Linked DNA regions of Homo sapiens: region 2 is linked to region 1. Evidence: fine-mapped expression QTL. A gene starts in region 1. The other region holds a variant in brackets. All regions are shown on one strand. Distances are from middle to middle. Region 1 holds the start of ECHDC2 (enoyl-CoA hydratase domain containing 2). Region 2 overlaps ZYG11B (zyg-11 family member B, cell cycle regulator).

The links. PIP is the estimated chance that this variant, and not a neighbour inherited with it, causes the effect.
Region 2: its variant is fine-mapped to the expression of ECHDC2 in transverse colon (GTEx, PIP above 0.99).

What each region holds. Positions count from the first base shown.
Region 1 is chr1:52,917,811-52,926,774 of GRCh38, reverse strand. ECHDC2 (enoyl-CoA hydratase domain containing 2) reads left to right here and starts at 5,035. Exons shown (of 10, transcript NM_001198961.2): 1 at 5,035-5,222. The coding sequence starts at 5,102. It also overlaps the pseudogene LOC112268226 and the pseudogene LOC100652967. RefSeq lists silencers at 5,059-5,288, 5,137-5,315 and an enhancer at 4,650-5,332.
Region 2 is chr1:52,777,131-52,786,094 of GRCh38, reverse strand. It overlaps ZYG11B (zyg-11 family member B, cell cycle regulator), which reads right to left. Exons shown (of 14, transcript NM_024646.3): 4 at 6,102-6,242; 5 at 1,042-1,218. Among named protein-coding and RNA genes, the nearest start is that of ZYG11B, 55 kb to the right of the region's middle. The variant T/C (reference allele first, on the strand shown) is at 4,449.

The DNA of each region.
Region 1 (8,964 bases):
GAAACAGCCTTCCATGTTTATTGGAGACCGGAGTCTCGCTCTGTCGCCCAGGCTGGAGTGCAATGCCGCGAACTCGGCTCACTGCAGCCTCCGCCTCCCAGGTTCAAGCAATCCTCCTGCCTCAGCCTCCCGAGTATCTGGGATTACAGGCGCGCGCCACCACGCCCCGCTAATTTTTGTATTTTTAGTAGAGATGGGGTTTCGCCATGTTGGCCAGGCTGGTCTGGAACTCCTGACCTTAGGTGATCTACCCACCTTGGCCTCCCAAAGTGCTGGGATTACAGGCGTGAGCCACCGCGCCCGGCTCCCCGGTTTATTTTATCTTATGTAAAAATGCAGATTCATTGAGCTAGATGAATGCATAAGTGACTATTTCTCTACCCCCCTCACATGTGAAGGTTGATCAAAGACTCAGAAGAATGCAACCGTTTGCCTCTTATCTACCCACATCTTTTTAAAATTTATTCATCTTTCCCCAATATCTGCCCCTTCCCCTATAAAAACTGAAGCCCTCAAAATCATCTTTGGAGAAAGGCACGGACCTGTCTCCAAAGATGATGCACGTCCTTAAACTTGGCAAAATTAACTTCTAAATTAATTGAGATCCGTTTCATATACTTTTCGGTTTGCAGTATCAGCATTTAGAAAGGCTCTCCTAGAAGATTCTAAGGATTGCTTCTTGGCCATTTGGCTAAGATCAAGTTTAGGAGATTCTAAGAAGCCCCCTCTGTGCTAAGTAAAGAACTACTGAGCTAGGACTAGACCAACTTAGTAAAATTGCTGCGCTCAGTGATGCACGCCTCCCATCTGCTCAGGAGGCTTCGGCAGAAAGATCACTTGAGCCTGGGAATTCAAGGCTACAAATGTGCTATGATTACACCTCTGAATAGCCACTGCACTCCAGCCTGGGCAACATACCAAGACCACGTCTCTAAAAAACCAAAACGAAACAAAAAAAAAAAAAAAAGAAAAACAAACACAAATCAGGGCACTGACATGTACAGTTGTTTCTTGAAACTGATGGACTGACAAGACAGCAATATGATTGGTGGATCAGACAAAGTTACCAACCTAATAGAACAACAAGTCCTAAGGTCAAGATTAATTGTTATGTAACAAATCCTGGCTGTCCACTGGATATTGCTTTCAAAATAAGAGTCCATAGAGGGCAGAGGGGATAGATAGTAATATAAAAGGTATTTGTTAATACCGAAAAGACTGAGAAAAAACACTTCCCTTTCCAATGTGAAGGACTAAATAATCCAAACTTTTCCCACTATAAAACACAGACTTTTCTAAGTCATTGGATGTGGGGCTCTGGGGTAGCCTGAGCTGTTTGTCCCACACCAAGATGCTTCAAAACATTATTAAAAATGTTTGGATCCCCATGAAGCCCTATTATAACCAAGTTTATCAGGAGATTTGAGTAGGAATGGGGTTAATGAGCCTCATCATTTATAAAATCAGGAGTACTGATAAAATAAGTAAAATATTGAAAGCTTCTCCACCTGCTTATGGTCATCACTAACCAGCTTCACTTAGCATGCACATGAAATGAAACATTAGTCGACCTGTGAATTTAAGCAAGCTATGTTAGAAAGGAACCTGGAAAATCACTGTACACTTATATAAGTACCACTTACTTTGTGGCATGAATAAGTATACCAAAAAAAAACACCCAGAAATGCCAGATAAAATACAATAAATATCATTTTAAGCTGGGTGTGGTGGTACGAGACTGTAATCCCATCTACTTGAGGAGCTGAGGCAGAAAGGCTGCTTGAGTCCAGGAGTTCAAGGCTGCAGTGAGCTACGATTATGCCTGTGAATAGCCACTGCACTCCAGCCTGGACAGCATAGTGAGACCTTTTCTGTTAATACAAAAAGACAAAAAGCAGCGAGGCACAGTGGCTCATGCCTGTAATCCCAGCACTTTGGGAGGCCAAAATGGGAGGATTGATTGAGCCCAAGAATTCAAGACCAACCTGGGCAACATAGCTCCCTATCTCTAAAAAAAAAGAAGAAAAAACAAGAAAAATCTTTTTAAATGGGTGGATGCCAGGCATGGGGGCTCACACCTGTAATCCCAGCACTTTGGGAGGCTGAGGTGGGAGGATCACTTGAGGCCAGGTGTTTGAGACCAGCCTGGCAACATAGGGAGACCTCTGTCTCTACAAAAAATTTAACAATGAGCCAAGTGTGGTGGCCCACTCCTGTAGTCCCAGCTACTCGGAAGGCTGAGACGGGAGGATCCCCTGAGCCCAGGAGTCTGAGGTTGTAGTGAACTGACTGCACCACTGTACTCCAATGTGGGCAACAGAGTGAGACCCTGTCTCAATAAAATAGAATACAATAAATGCATGGAATATGGAGGAGGGAAGGTTTTTCTTTTAATCTTATACCCAATTATAGTTTGTATGTTTTGTTTTTGCTTCTTTTTTTTTTTTAAGACAGAATCTCACTCTGTTGCCCAGGTTGGAGTGCAGTGGTGTGATCTCAGCTCACTACAACCTCCACCTCCTGGGTTCAAGCGATTCTTGCACCTCAGCCTCCTGAGTAGCTGGGATTACAGCTGCCCACAACCACGCCTGGCTAATTTTTGTATTTTTAGTAGAGACAGGGTTTCACCATGTTGGCCAGGCTGGTCTTGAACTCCTGACCTCAGGTGACCCACCCACCTCAGCCTCCTAAAGTGCTGGGATTACAGGCATGAGCCACCGGGCCTGGCTAGTTTGTATGTTTTGATTTTGTGTATATATTAGTTTTATTTTTGCTAAGGCATGTTTTTAATTTTTGTTATTGTGCTTTGTTTTCATTTTCATTATTTATTTTGAGTAAGTTATACTTAAAACAAAAATCAAGATTCAAAAAGTATAAAAGGGGCCAGGCATGGTGGTTCACACCTGTAATCCCAGCACTTTGGAAGGCCAAGGTGGACAAATCGCCTGAGCTCAGGAGTTCGAGACCAACCTTGGCAACATGGCAAAACCCCGTCTCTACAAGAAATACAAAAATTAGCCAATGTTGTGGCATGTACCTGTGGTCCCAGCTACTCAGGAGGGTGAGGTGGAAGGATCACCTGAGCCCGGGAGGCAGAAGCTGCAGTGAGCCAAGATACTGCCACTGCACTCCAATCTGGGCAACAACAACATCCTGTGTCCAAAAACGTATAACAGGTCAAACCGTAAAACTTGTCTCTCTTACCCTTATTCCCAGCCTCTCGGTTCTTCTTCCCTATCCTTCCAAAGATGTTTTATGTAAATACAATCAAATATACACATGCATACTCTTATCCCCCTTGTTAACACAAATTTTTGTTTTCTTTATTATTTCTTTCAATAGAGGTGGGGTTTTGCTATGTTGGCTAGGTTGGTCTTGAACTCCTGGCCTCAAGCAATCCTCCTGTCTCGGCCTCCCAAAGTGCTAGGTTCATGAGCATGAGCCACCAGACCCGGCCAAATTTTAGCTTTCTTTACACACTATTCTGCATTTTGACTTGTTTCATATACCAATAGATTTTGAAGATTGTTTCATATCAATGCATAAACAGTTTCCTGTGTTTTGTTATAGCTGCATAGTATTCAGATTATTGATGTACCTTTTTTTTTTTTTTAAGTAGAGATAGGGGCTTGCTATATTTCCCAGGCTGGTTTCAAACTCCTGGCTTCCAGGGACCTACCTGCCTTGGCCTTCCAAAGTGTTGGAATAATAGGGTGAGCCACCACACACAGCCCCATAATTTATTTAACCAACCCTCTATTGATGGATATTGAGACTGTGATATAGTTTGGGTGTTGGATCCCTCCAAATCTCACGTTGAAATATGATTCCCAATGTTGGAGGTGGGCCCTGTTGGGAGGTGACTGGATCATGGGGACAGATCCCTTGTGAATGGTTTAGCACCATCCCCTTGGCGATAAACTGGGACCTCCCCACCTAATTTTCTTGTTCCTATTCTCGCCATGTGACATGCTGGATCCCTGTCACCTTCAGCCATGATTGTAAGCTTCCTGAGGCCTCACCAGAAGCACATGACAGCACCATGTGCTTCCAGTCTTTTGCTATTATAAACAATGCTGCAATGTACAGCCATGAACACGTGTCATTTCACAGCTGTGTGGATTTATCTGTAGGTTAAATTTCTAAAATTGGAATTTCTGGGGCAATGAGCTTGTGCATTTATAATTTTGATATAAATTACCAGTTGCTTTTCATTTAAAGACATTCACATCAGCAATGTGAGAGTGCTTTGTATATACTGTGTTTAAGAGAATAATTTTTTTTTTTGGGACGCAGTTTCGCTCATTGCCCAGCCTGGAGTGCAGTGGCGCGATCTCAGCTCACTGAACCTGTGCCTTCCGAGTTCAAGTGATTCTCCTGCCTCAGCCTCCCAAGTAGCTGGGATTACAGGCGCCCGCCACCACGCCCAGCTAATTTTTTTGAATGTTTAACAGAGACAGGGTTTCGTCATGGTGAAACCCTGCCTCTACTAAAAATACAAAAAAAATTAGTTGGGCGTGGTGGCGCGTCCCTGTAATCCCAGCTACTTGGGAGGTTGAGGCAGGAGAATCGCTTGAACCCGGAGGCGGAGGTTACAGTGAGCCAAGATCAAGGCACAGCACTCCAACCTGGGCGACACAGCGAGACTCCGTCTCAAAAAAAAAAAAAAAAAAAAAAAGTGAGGCGCAAATGGGAGGTGAAGCAGTGAGGTTCGCAAGTGTAGACACGCTCAAGGGACTCATTAAATGTCATTTCATTTAAAAAATGAAATTGAGCATATGTGCAAGCAAGGTTCACACACCCCATTTAATCTTCACACCACCACGGGGTAGTCACTATTATCCCCATTTTACAGGATTAAAACACTGACGCTGGGAGGTTGACAGAGTTACACCAAATCACACAGAGGAGCTGGGCTTCCCCCGACCTCCTCCGCTCAAGTCTCCCTGTCCCCGGGAGGTGCGGAAGGAGGCAACAGACGCTTGGCCCATAGGTGGAGCAATTGGCGAAGGCTTCGCCCGACGCCGGAACTGCGAGCTCTCAGCGGGAGCCGAGACGGTGCAGGGCCGGAGAAGCACCTTCACTCCCAGCCTGCGCCCCGATGCTGCGCGTTCTGTGCCTCCTGCGCCCCTGGAGGCCCCTTCGGGCCCGCGGCTGCGCTTCCGACGGGGCGGCCGGGGGCTCAGAGATCCAAGTGCGCGCCCTGGCGGGTCCGGACCAAGGTAAATGTGCAGTTCCGGGGCGGCGCATGACGCGACTGGGACTAGGCCGGAGGCAGCGGGGGACCGGCAGGTGGGCCGCTCAGTGCGTTGAAGGATTCGATCCCCAGTCCCTCCCTCCCAGTTCTAGGCGCCCCAAACCGCTCCAGGCCTGAGAGGTGGGCGGCCGCCTTAGTGGCTCCAGACTCTAGCTGGGGGCGGGGGGCCTCTGGCAACCTCGGTCTCTTCAAAGGCCCTTTGGGGTCTTCCGACTGTGTGGAAGGGGGAGCGGGGTCCGCACGGGTAGGACTGGGCCCCGCGGCCCCCAGGCCAGGAGCGTTTAAGTGCGCGTTCCCCTCCCCCGCCAAGGGTCCTGGCCCGGTTCGGGGGCGGAGGCAGCGGAGCCAGTCCCAGTGCCCAGTGCGGCAGCGGGCAGAGTGAGGAGGGTGCCTCTCCAGCCGCGCGCCCGCCCTGGGCCGCTAGCGAACCTTTGCGTCCTTCTGGCTCCAGGGAAAAGTTCGCTGTTTCTCCGCCTTTTGGCCAAGATCAAGGATAGTATGGAGCGGGGACGAGGGGTGGGGGGCAAAGTTCGCGGGTCACTGGCAGAAAACGCCTCTGATCGCGTGTTGCGTTTTTGTTGTTGTTGTTGTTTGAACTTCTGGAGCATTCAGTGGTGCTGATAACGCTCCTCAGTCCTCTGCTGGTAACCATCAGGGCTAGGCGCTTCTCCTGCCTTGGGTCTCCTCCCCGCATCTCATCCCCTGTCTCCTGCATTTGATACACAGATGGCATTGTACTGTACATTTCGTTGTATTGCTTCTTTTTTTTTTTTAACAAAAGTTTATTCTTAAATGTACAACAGCTCCAAGACAACACTTAATTCCAGCCATAGGTGGCAAAAGATGTTATGGCAGGGAATAGAGAGGTTTAAATACTGATGAAATAAAGGGTCACCATCTCCTTAGGCACAGGGAACAGCTTACTTTTTGCCAGATTTCTTAATTCCACTTGTGGCCAAGGGCCCCTTCCCCGTGGCCTTCCATTTTAGCTCCTCGAGTTTCTTCTGCTCCTCTTTTTGTTTCTGCTTGAAAGCCTTATCTTCCTCGTCCATCTCCTTGGCCTGCATTCTTGGGCTGTTTCAGTGGCTTCTTGCCACCTTCGTGGCCGGACATGGCGCCTGCCGCCCCTTCCCCAGCAGTATTGCTTCCTTTTTACCGGCTTGACAACAAGTTTGAAGCGGGGCTTTGCCATAAAATCCAGTTCCTTGCTCCCTGCTGTTGCCCACTGTTCCCAAGTGTGCATCTACCACCTTCAGTGGACACGGACAGGCCACCTAGAGTCCCACTGCACCACTTGGTGAGAATTTCCTTGAACAGTTAATATTGCTGAACCTTATACCCCCAATCTCATGCTTAGTTCACTACCCAACTGGCAACAGCTCTTAAGACAGTCAAGATTATTCTCCCCACTTTACAGATTAAAAAACTGAGGCACAGAAGGTTAAGTTATTTGAACCAGGTCTGATTTCAAAGCCTGTGTTCTCAACCATTAGGTAATCACTGGCTCTTCTAGTAATTCAGTGACTCAAAATACAGACTTGTACATGTGTAAACACAAAATTATCATGGGTTAAAGACCTTTAGGCTCACTTGCAAATATCGGGAATCATTTTATCCAAAAAAGAATGACAAGGATCAGCAGATTAAGCCTCTGCCCCTGCCAGAGGGCTCAAAGGGCAGGAAAAGGCAGTGAGAGAAGGAGAGACAGAAACCAAGATGACAGTGCAGAGGAGGCATGGGGATGAGATCACACACGGAGCCCTCACAGGGAATGAGTTGGGGTCATTTGATGTTCATATTAGAAGCTGCAGGTTCTGCCTTCCACTGGGGCTGATGGCACAAGAGCACTGTTACATTTTACCTGCTGCCTTTGAGCTTGAGGTTGGGTGGTAAACCATTCTTCACTGTTCTTAGCGGCTTTATTTCTCATAGAGTCATGTGTTGCTTAACAACGGGGCTACATTCTGAGAAATGCATCATTAGGTGATTGTGGTCATTGTGGGAGCATCACAGAGTGCACCTACACAGTCCTAGATGGGGTAGCCTACTGCACACCAAGGCTACATGGTGTATAGCCTGTTGCTCCTAGAATACAAACCTGGACAGCATGGTACCGGGCTGAATACTGTAGGCAACTGTAACACAATGGTAAATGTGTATCTGAACATAGAAAAGGCACAGTAAAAATACAGTCTAAAAGATTTTTTAAATAGTACACCTGTACTGGGCAGTTACCATAAATGGAGCTTGCAGGACTGGAAGCTGCACTGGGTGAGTCAGCGAGTGAATGGTGAGTGAATGTGAAGGCCTAGGACAGCAGGGACTGGTTTGGCACCAGGGACTATTTTCATGAAAGACAGTTTTTCCATGGACTTGCGGGCGGACAGATGGTTTGGGGATGAAACTGTTCCACCTCAGATCATCAGGCATTAGATTCTCATAAGGAGCTCGCAACAACCTAGATTCCTCACATGCACAGTTCACAATAGGGTTCGCACTCCTATGAGATTCTAATGCCACCACTGATCTGATAGGAGGTGGAACTCAGGTGGTAATTCAAGCCATGGGGAGCTGCTGTAAATACAGATGAAGCTGCTCATCTCCTGTTGTGTGGCCCAGTTCCTAGCAGGCCACAGACTGGGATGGGTCCACAGCCCGGGGGTTGGGGACCCCTGGCCTAGGACATTACTGTACACTACTATAGACTCTATAACACTGTACACCTAGGCTACACTAAATTTGCTTTACAAATGTTTCTTTCTTCAATGATAAATTAACCTTAGCTTACTCTGTTTTTACTTTATAAACTTTTTAATTTTTTCAACTTTTGACTCTTTTGTAGTAACACTCAGCTTAAAACACAAACACATTGTACGGCTGTACAAAAAATGTTTTCTTCTTTAGATCCTTATTTTATAAGCTTTTAAAAATTTTAATTCTTAAACTTTTTTTGTTAAAAACAAAGACACAAGCACACACACGAGCCTAGACCTATCACTGTCTTCCACCTCCACATCTTGTCCCACTGGAAGGTCTTCAGGGGCGATAACGTGCATGGAGCTGCCATCTCCTATGATAACAATCGGGAATACCTACTGAAGGACCTGCCTGAGGCTGTGTTACACTGAACTTTTTTCTTTTCTTTTTTTTTTTTTTTTTAATAAGTAGGAGTACACACGGCCCAGGCCAGGTACAGTGGCTCACCTGGCTCACTCTTGTAATCCCAGCACGTTGAGAGGGTGAGGCAGGCAGATTGCTTGAGCCCAGGAGTTTGAGACCAGCCTGGGAAACATAGTGAAACCCCTTCTCTACAAAAAAATACAAAAATTATCCAGGCATGGTTGTGCATACCTGTAGCCCCTGCTACTCAGGAGGCTGAGGTGGGAGGATGGCTTGAGCCGGGGAGGTCAAGGCTGTCCAATATCAAGGATTCCTGATATTTGCAAGTGAGCCCAAAGGTGTTTAACCCATGAGTGAGCCATGATCGTGTTACTGTACTCCAGCCTGGGCAACAGAGTAAGACCCTGTCTCAAAAAAATTAAAAATAAAAAGTAGGAGTATATTCTAAAATAATGGTAAAAATAATATTGTAAATATATAAACCTAAAACATAGTCTTTTATTATCATTATCAAGTATTATGTTGTGGGCCTAATTGTATGTGCTGTGCTTTTGTATAACTGGTAAAGCAAGCTAGTTTACACCAGC
Region 2 (8,964 bases), 140 kb after region 1:
ACTTTCATCTTTGTTATTCCTTCCTTCTACTTTCTTTGGGCTTATTCTTTTGTTGTTTCTCTAACATAGGCAGACTTATTTATAGCTCCCTTTTTGTAAGAATGTATCTCTGGGGAGGAAGTCATAGTTTATGCTAGGAGTCTTCTGTCTGACGGGCTTCCAGAGGCCACGAAAATCAAAGCCTAAATTTCATCTAGTTTGGCAACTGCCCTCAATGAGGGAAGCTGGCTTCAATGATCTACTCACCAATGTGGCTTGCCATTTTTACTTGGTTTTGAGCCTCTGAGTATTTTTTACTAACTTGCCAACTCAATGGTCAATTTCAAATGACCTAAAAAAAAGTTAAGGGCCGGGTGAGGTGGCTGTAATCCCAGCATTTTCAGAAGTTAAGGTGGGCGGATCACAAAGACAAGAGATGGAGACTATCCTCACCAACATGTTGAAACCTTGTCTCTACTAAGAATACAAAAATTAGTTGGGTGTGGTGGTGCGCGCCTGTAATCCCAGCTACTTGGGAGGCTGAGGCAGGAGAATCACTTGAACCCGGGAAGTGGAGGTTGCAGTGAGTTGAGATCGCGCCACTGCACTCTGGCCTGGCAACAGAGCAAGACTCTGTTTAAAAAACAAAAAAATTAAGCAACATTTTTAGTATTCATCCTGAGTATAAGACAGGTTACATCTTCTACCATACTGCTAGAAATGGAAAAGACATGTCTTAATCATTTATGTATCCCAGCATTTGATAGTGCCTAGCCCAGAACAGATCCTCTGTGCCTATCTGCTGAAATGATCACAAACTCAAGATCTAGGAGGAAGATGAGTTTTGTATGGCTTGTATTATGTCCCCCAATATATGGATTTAGGTGCTTTTAGGCACGGAATATACTCCTTTGGTGTCCACTTCTCTGTTTTCTTACACTCAGTCATACCACAGCCTCCAAAGGCATTTGAATTTCCAGCCTTGGTCTATTAAACTGAACTGTAGGAGATGAGTAGAAGACACTACAAGGACTATTTGAAAAGGAATTCACATAAGCTTACCTGCTGGTGATTGGGAAAATGTTCCATGGCTTTGAGCAGCAAATGGGTCACATCAGCCAGGAGTCGGACAGGCATCCCTGCAGCAAGATCCTGCTTGGTTAAGTTAAATACACAGGCGCTTGCAGCCAGTTGCACTGGCAAATTCATAGGGTGGTTTCTCATCCCAGTAACCACAAGCTGGAAAAAAAAAATTAGTCCTCTTAATTCACCTTATAAATACAAGCCCTCTTCACAGAGCAGAATTATTTTGTTGGTCTATAGTAATTTCAAAGATGTCATAATTTTCTTTTTCATCCTCATGTGCAAAGAGCCTAGGATATAGCAGTTACTCACAAATAGTTCCAGTCTACCTCACCAAGGCAGGTATTCAGCTATTCATATCTAGGGGTTTTCTGTAAAGTTAATGAATCTTTTTCACACAGGTCACTCATCTTTGTATTTCCAAGACCTACTTATGGTGCCTGTTATATGGAAGGCAGTGAATAAATTCTCACTGACTTGAATAGAGCACACTCCACTCTCAAATTTCAATCTTCAGTTCCTTGAGAACACTGCTGAGGTTAAAGTGCAATAAAATCCATTCACTTTCCCTGGCCTAGACAACTATTTCTCACTTTTTCCTCTGCCCTCAAACCCCCAACGAATCCTTCCCATTCCTCACTATCAGCTGAAGATCTTGCTTTCAACTACACTAAGAAAACTGCCAGCCTGGGCAACATGGTGAAACCCCATCTGTATAAAACAATACAAAAATTCACTGGGGGCCAGGCATGGTGGCTCATGCCTGTAATCCCAGCACTCTGGGAGGCCAAGGCAGGTGGATCACTTGAGGTCAGGAGTTTGAGACCAGCCTGGCCAACATGGTGAAACCCCATCTCTACTAAAAATACAGAAAGTAGCTGGGCATGGTGGCACGTGCCTGTAATCCCAGCTACTCGGGAGGCTGAAGCAGGAGAACTGCTTTAACCCAGGAGGCAGAGGTTGCAGTGAGCCAAGAGCACACCATTGCACTCAAGCCTGGATGACAACGGTGAAACTCCATCTCTCTCTCTCTCTATATATATATATGTGTGTGTGTGTGTATATGTGTGTATGTGTATATATACATATATGTATAGATGTATATACACATATATGTATAGATGTATATACACACACGTGTATGTACATATACACACACGTGTATGTACATACACACACACGTGTATGTACATATACACACGTATGTATACATATACGTGTGTGTGTATATATATATATATATAAAGCTGGGCATGGTAGTACACGCCTATAGTCCCATCTACTTGGGAGGCTGAGGTGGGAGGATCACCTGAGCCCTGGGAGGCAGAGCCTGTAGTGAGCCATGGTTGTGCCACTGCACTTCTGCCTGGGGGACAGAGTGAGACCCTGCCTCTAAGGAAAAGAGAAAAAAAAAAAAAAAAAGAAAGAAAGAAAACTGAAGCAACCAGAAAAGAACTTCAGATTCTCATTACCACATGTATCCTACTTACCAGCATACGTACATATACATGTCACCTTCCTGCCTGCTACCATAAGGAATCTTTTGGGGTCCTTTGTAAAACAAATCCCTTCATGTATATGTTAGATAATTATTTTCTTGTCTACTGAAAGGAAGCTGTTCACCCCTCCTACTCCTATATCAATTTTTTATTCTGTACTGGATCATTCATATCAGGATACAAACAAGATATATTTTTCCTATTAAAAAAAATCAAAACATCCCTCTTTTAATCTCACTTCCTCAAACGATTACCATCTTTTTTCTTTGCTCCCCTTTGCAGCAAAATTCCCTATAAGAATTGCCTTGGCCAGGCATGGTGGCTCATGCCTGTAATCCCAGCACTTTGGGAGGCCGAGGCAGGTGGATCACTTGAGATCAGGAGTTCGAGACCAGCCTGGCCAACATGGTGAAACCTCGTCTCTACTAAAAATATAAAAATTAGCTGGGCGTGGTGGCAGGTGCCTATAATCTCAGCTACTCGGGAGGCTGAGGCAGAAGAATCGCTTGAACATGGGAAGCAGAGGTTGCAGTGAGCTGAGATAGCACCACTGCACACCATCCTGGGCAATAGGGTGAGACTCAGTCTCAAAAAAAAAAAAAGGAATTGCCTAGGCTAGGTGCAGTGGCTCATGCCTGTAATTACAGGACTTTGGGAGCTCAAGGCAGGAGGATCACTTGAGGTCAGGAATTCGAGACTAGCCTGGGCAACACAGCAAGAACCTGCCTCTACAAAAAATTTTTTTAAAATTAGCCTGTGTAACATAGTGTGACCCCCGTCTCTACAAAATTAGCCCGGTGTGGTTGCATGGGCCTGTAGTCCTAGCTACTCAGGAGGCTTAGGCAGGAGGATTGCTCGAGCCCTGGAGTTTGAGGTTACAGTGAGCTATGATCATACTACTGCACTTCAGCCTGGGTGACAGAGTGAGGCACTGTCTCAAAAATAAATAAATAAATTTATTTTTAAAAATTTGAAAAATTAGCCAGGTGTGATGGCACACACCTATACTCCCAGCCATTCGAGAGGTTGAGGCAGAAGATTGCTGAGCTCAAGAGTTTGAGGTTGCAGTTGCAGTGAACTATGATCGTGCACCACTGCACTCCAGCTTGGGCAATACAGCTAGATCTTGTATCTTTAAAAAAATAAAATAAAAGTGGCTCACTCCTATAATCCCAACACTTTGGGAGGCCAAAGCGGGAGAATCACTTGAGCACAGGAATTTGAGACCAGCCTGGGCAACACAGTGGGTTTCCATCACTACAAAAAAACCAATAATAATAATAACAAATTTTAAAATTCAGCCAGGCATGGTGTTATTAGCTTGTAGTTCCAGCCACTCTGGAGGCTGAGGAAGGGGGATCATTTGAGCCCAGGAGGGAGGTCGAGGCTGCAGTGAGCCATGATCATGCCACTGCACTCCAGCATGGGTGACAGAGTGAGATGCTACCTCAATAAATAAACAAATAAATAAATAAATAAATAGCCTATATTCTTCCATTTATCTCTGAATCATTCTCTGAATGTCTGAATGAATATTTCAGATCAAGACTAGAGATCTAGTCTTCTGTTGCTCAGTTCACAGTAATCAAAACAAAAAAAAAAAGACAATTCATATACCAAGTGCCAACATCCTCTGATATATATAAAAGGAGTGACAGGTGTTGGTGATAATATCCTAAGGACTAAAATGTTACTGGTTCCTACCCAAGCGCCTCATTCTCAGAATTTAAGATATGTAGGATATCAAGTTGTGGCTCTGCCACTGACTTATTATTACTTAACGTCACAGAACCTCAATTTCATTATCTGTAAAACAGAAGATAAAACCCATCTCTTGGAATTGTGCCCACTAAATGAGGTGCCAAATATAATAGAGTCCTAAGCTCA[T/C]TGGTTTTCAAAATTGAACGTGCGTAAGAATTACCTTGGAATTATCTTGGGGGCTTATTAAAACGTAGATTCCTGTGCCTCATCTAGCCCTACTGAATCTAAATTTTTGGGAGTGGGGTTTACAAATATCTTTTTTTTTTCTCTTTTAAGACAAGTTTTCACTCCTGTCACCCAGGTTGGAGTGTGGTAGCATGATCTCAGCTCGCTGTAACCTCTGCCTCCCTGGCTTGAGCAATTCTCCCGCCTCAGTGTCCCATGTAGCTGGGACTACAGGTGCGTGCCACCACAGCTGGCTAATTTTTGTAATTTTTGTAGAGATGGGGTTTTGCCATGTTGCCCAGGCTGGTCTTGAACTCCTGAGCTCAAGTGATCTGCCTGCCTTGGCTTCCCAAAGTACTGGGATTACAGGTGTGAGCCACCATGCCTGGCCACAAATAAGCTTTTTAAATAAGCAACATCCTAGACTTCTAGTGGTTAAAGGACAACTTTGGTTGTTGTTGTTGTTGTTGTTTTGAGAGAGTCTTGCTCTGTTGCTCATGCTGGAGTGCAGTGGCACGATCTCGGCTCACTGTAAACTCGGCCTCCCAGGTTCCTCATGCCTCAGCCTCCTGAGTAGCTGGGATTACTGGCGTGCACCACCACATTTGGCTAATTTTTTGTATTTTTAGTAGAGATGGGGTTTCGCCATGTTGGCCAGGCTGGTCTAGAACTCCTGGCCCCAAGTGACCCACCTGCCTCAGCCTCCCAAAGTTATTACAGGTGTGAGCCACTGCGTCCTGGCCCAAAGGACCACATTTTGATAAATGTTGCCCAAAGCATTCAATAAAATTAAGAAATCTCCTTTCTTGCCCTTCAAAAGCTGTTTTGGTTAAAATAGCTAGGTGCTGTGATGTACACACCTGTAGTCCTAGCTACTTGGGAGGTTAAGACAGGATTGCTTGAGCCCAGGAGTTTGAGGCCTGTGAACAGCCACTGCACTCTTGCCTGGGGAACACAGTAAGACCCTATGTCTTAAAAACAAAACAAAACTTAATTGCGGAGTAATGTAAATCAGTTAAGAATGCATAGTAGGTTCTAAACAGCATGGAAAAGTACCTTATAGAATTTCAATATTTGCTTTGTCTTTACTTCTCTCTTTTTTTTATTTTTTTAATACTTTTTGTAGGAATGGGGTTTTGCCATCTTGCTCAGGCTGGTCTCGAACTCCTGGGCTCAAGCTACCCATCTGTCTCAGCTCCTGAAGTGCTAGGATTACAGGCATGAACTACCATATTTGGTGCAATATTGTATTTCTAAAAAATCTATTTGGGAAGCAATATAGGGTTAATATACAATACAGTGTCCTGATTCCAGTCATATACTTTCATTTTCTACAGTAGCTGGTGATAAAATATCATGGTAGTCACTGGTTTTAGGTAGATAAATATGTACTACAAGACATTTATATTGCTTAATGAGATTATTGTGAAGCTTCAATAACATTGTACAACTATCTTCTCTCTCGTTTATAGCTAATGATTGAAATCACACGTCATCAATCACATTATAAATAATAAAAAAAGACTAAATGCAAATTTTCACCAATTTTCTTCAAAAAATCATCTGCCCAGGGAGATCATTTCAAAAATTTCATATCCAGTTTCTTATTCTTACCTTTAAAATTTCTGGCTTTGTTTTTTCCATCACATGAGTCAGACTAAAAAGATGAAATAGAGCTTCCCGAACAAAGAATGCCCGTTCACTGTAACGCTTCAGTGCTTCTGCAATCTGAGTTTCATTGGCTTCCCCAGACACCTGTGAACATAACCAGATTAGCTTTTAGAATTCTCTCTCTTTCTCTATCTAATTATCATGTGTGGCCAGGCGCGGTGGCTCACGCCTGTAATCCCAGTACTTTGGGAGGCCAAGGTGGGTGGATCATGTGAAGTCAGGAGTTCGAGACCACCCTGGCCAACATGGTGAAACTCCATCTCTACTAAAAATAAAAAATTAGCCAAGCACGGTGGTGCATGCCTGTAACTGCAGCTACTCAGGAGGCTGAGGCAGGAGAATCGCTTGAACCCAGGAGGCGGAGGTTACAGTGAGCTGAGATCACGCCACTGCACTCCAGCCTGGGCAACACAGCAAGACTCTGTCTCTAAATAAATAAATAAATATCATTTGTATACATGGTATCTTGGATAGTTATGTAAAGCTGGGATCAAATAAAAATGACTATACTTTCCAATCTATCCAGATTAGTCATCTTAAACAGCTATATCTGTCTTGAAGAGATGTATATTAGATAGGCTCAGAACCTAGCATAAGACCATGGGCGAAATTTTCTGTATTATACCTAAAATAGATCTCAAGATATTTAACACTATTATAAGGCCCTACCGCTTGATTAGGATCCTATCTGCCTCTTAATCCCCTCCCTCTAGCTCACAATGTTATAACTGTATGACCTTTTTTCCTCACCTTTCCGTAAGTCAAGCTTTTTCTCAGCAAAGGACCACTCATACAATGTCCTCTCTGACTGAAAACTTCCTTTCTCTCTTTACCTGACTAATTTCTACTCATTCTTCCTTATTCAAGTTAAGGACACTTTCTTAGAGAAGTCTTTGTTGAGCCACTGATTTAAGTTAGGTCCCCTGAAACATCTCTTTCAGAGCTATTATCATAATCCCCCACTACATTGATCCATTCACCATTGTACCACAATAGCTAGCGTTATGCTTGGCTCAGAATACTTTCTCCATAAGTATTCATCAAATAAATGTATCAATTAATTTCCCCAGATTTATCACGCTCCTTTTCAGCACCAAGAGGTTCTGTTTAAAATTAAGTCTTTCTAGGGATTCCCAACATAAAAGTATATTATTTTAAGATAATACGCTTATCTTAAAATGTAGTTCAGGTGCCATTCGGCAACCAAACGTAGGTAGCAGAAAGTGGCTCTTTATAAAAGTAATCCAACTAGTAAGTGAAAAATAAATGATTAAAATATCACCATAATCCCCAATGAATTGATAGATCTAGCTACTAAGTGTCAATAACTGCTAACATCACAGAAAGAGAAACAACTAGATATTTATGTACCTCATAACGTAAGAATACAACACCTAAGGGTCTGGCCAAAGGGATCTAACGTAAGTCTAATTAAGCCTCCAAATCCAGCTACCAATTTGCAGAAAATACAAAGAGAAAGATGCACCATTAGTATACAATCAGCAAAATCCAGGCTGGCAGAGTGGCTTATATCTGTAATCCCAGCACTTTCGGAGGCTGAGGCAGGAGCATCACTTTAACCCCAGGAGTTCCAGACCAGCCTGGGCAACACAGCAAGACCCTGTCTCTACAAAACATCAACAAATACAATAAAATCCAGACTGAGGGAAACTCTACAAATCCAAACGATAGATTATTCAATAAACAAATTATAAGGAAAAGAAAGGGATGAGGAGAAACCTATAAACTAAAAGATACTCAAAAGACATCAAATTGTTTTAAACAGACAAGATTATACAGGTGCCTAAATAGTTGGGTCATAAAATTATAAAGAAATGAAAGGACATGGTTGGGTGTAGTGGCTCGCGCCTGTAATCCCACCACTTTGGGAGGCTGAAGCGAGCTTTGGGGTAGATGACAAAGTTCTGTTACTTAACCTGAGTGATGGTCTCAAGTGTGTTCACTTTATTTTCAACTCATTAAGCTATATAATTATTTACTGCCTTTGTCTCTGTTTTATTTTACAATAAAGTTTTAAAAAATGCCAAAAAACGTCATTCAGAGCGACTATCTCATAATAAGGGGAAGATTTAGTCTTTTTTGGCAGTAACATTATACAGTGTGACACAAAAGTAATCAAATATTTTAAAAATATATTACTCAGTAACTAAGTTGTATATAAACATATAATATTCAGCCAGGCATGATGGCTCATGCCTGTAATCCCAGCACTTTGGGAGGTAGAAGCAGGAGGATCACTTGAGCCCAGGAGTTCAAAACCAGCCTGGGGAACATAGTAAGACCCTGTCTCTATAAAAGAAAAGAAAAATTAGTTACGTGTGATGGTGCATGCCTGTAGTCCCAGCTACTTGGGAGACTGAAGAGGACTGCTTGAGCCCACGAATTTGAGGCTGCAGTAAGCCATGACTGTGCCACAGCACTCCATGATGCGCAACAGAGTGAGACTCTATCAAAAAAAACAAAAAAGCCTATAAACGTTCAGATTGGAATATGCAGCTTTGAGGAAATGAAGGGATGTATCATGGTTGACATTTCAACCATTAATAGGATATGCTACAAGAGTCTGAAATGAATTAGACTACAGTATTGATATATGTCACATGACACAAGGGTACATATGAAGAATTTCTAAGATTGTTGAAATAATAATAAAAGTTTCTTTACTTCCATTACTTTACGTCTTTTCTCTTTTTTTTCCTTTTTTTTGAGATACGGTCTTGCTCTGTCGCCCAGACTGGAGTGCAGTGGCACGATCTCGGCTCACTGCAACCTCTACTTCCCGGGT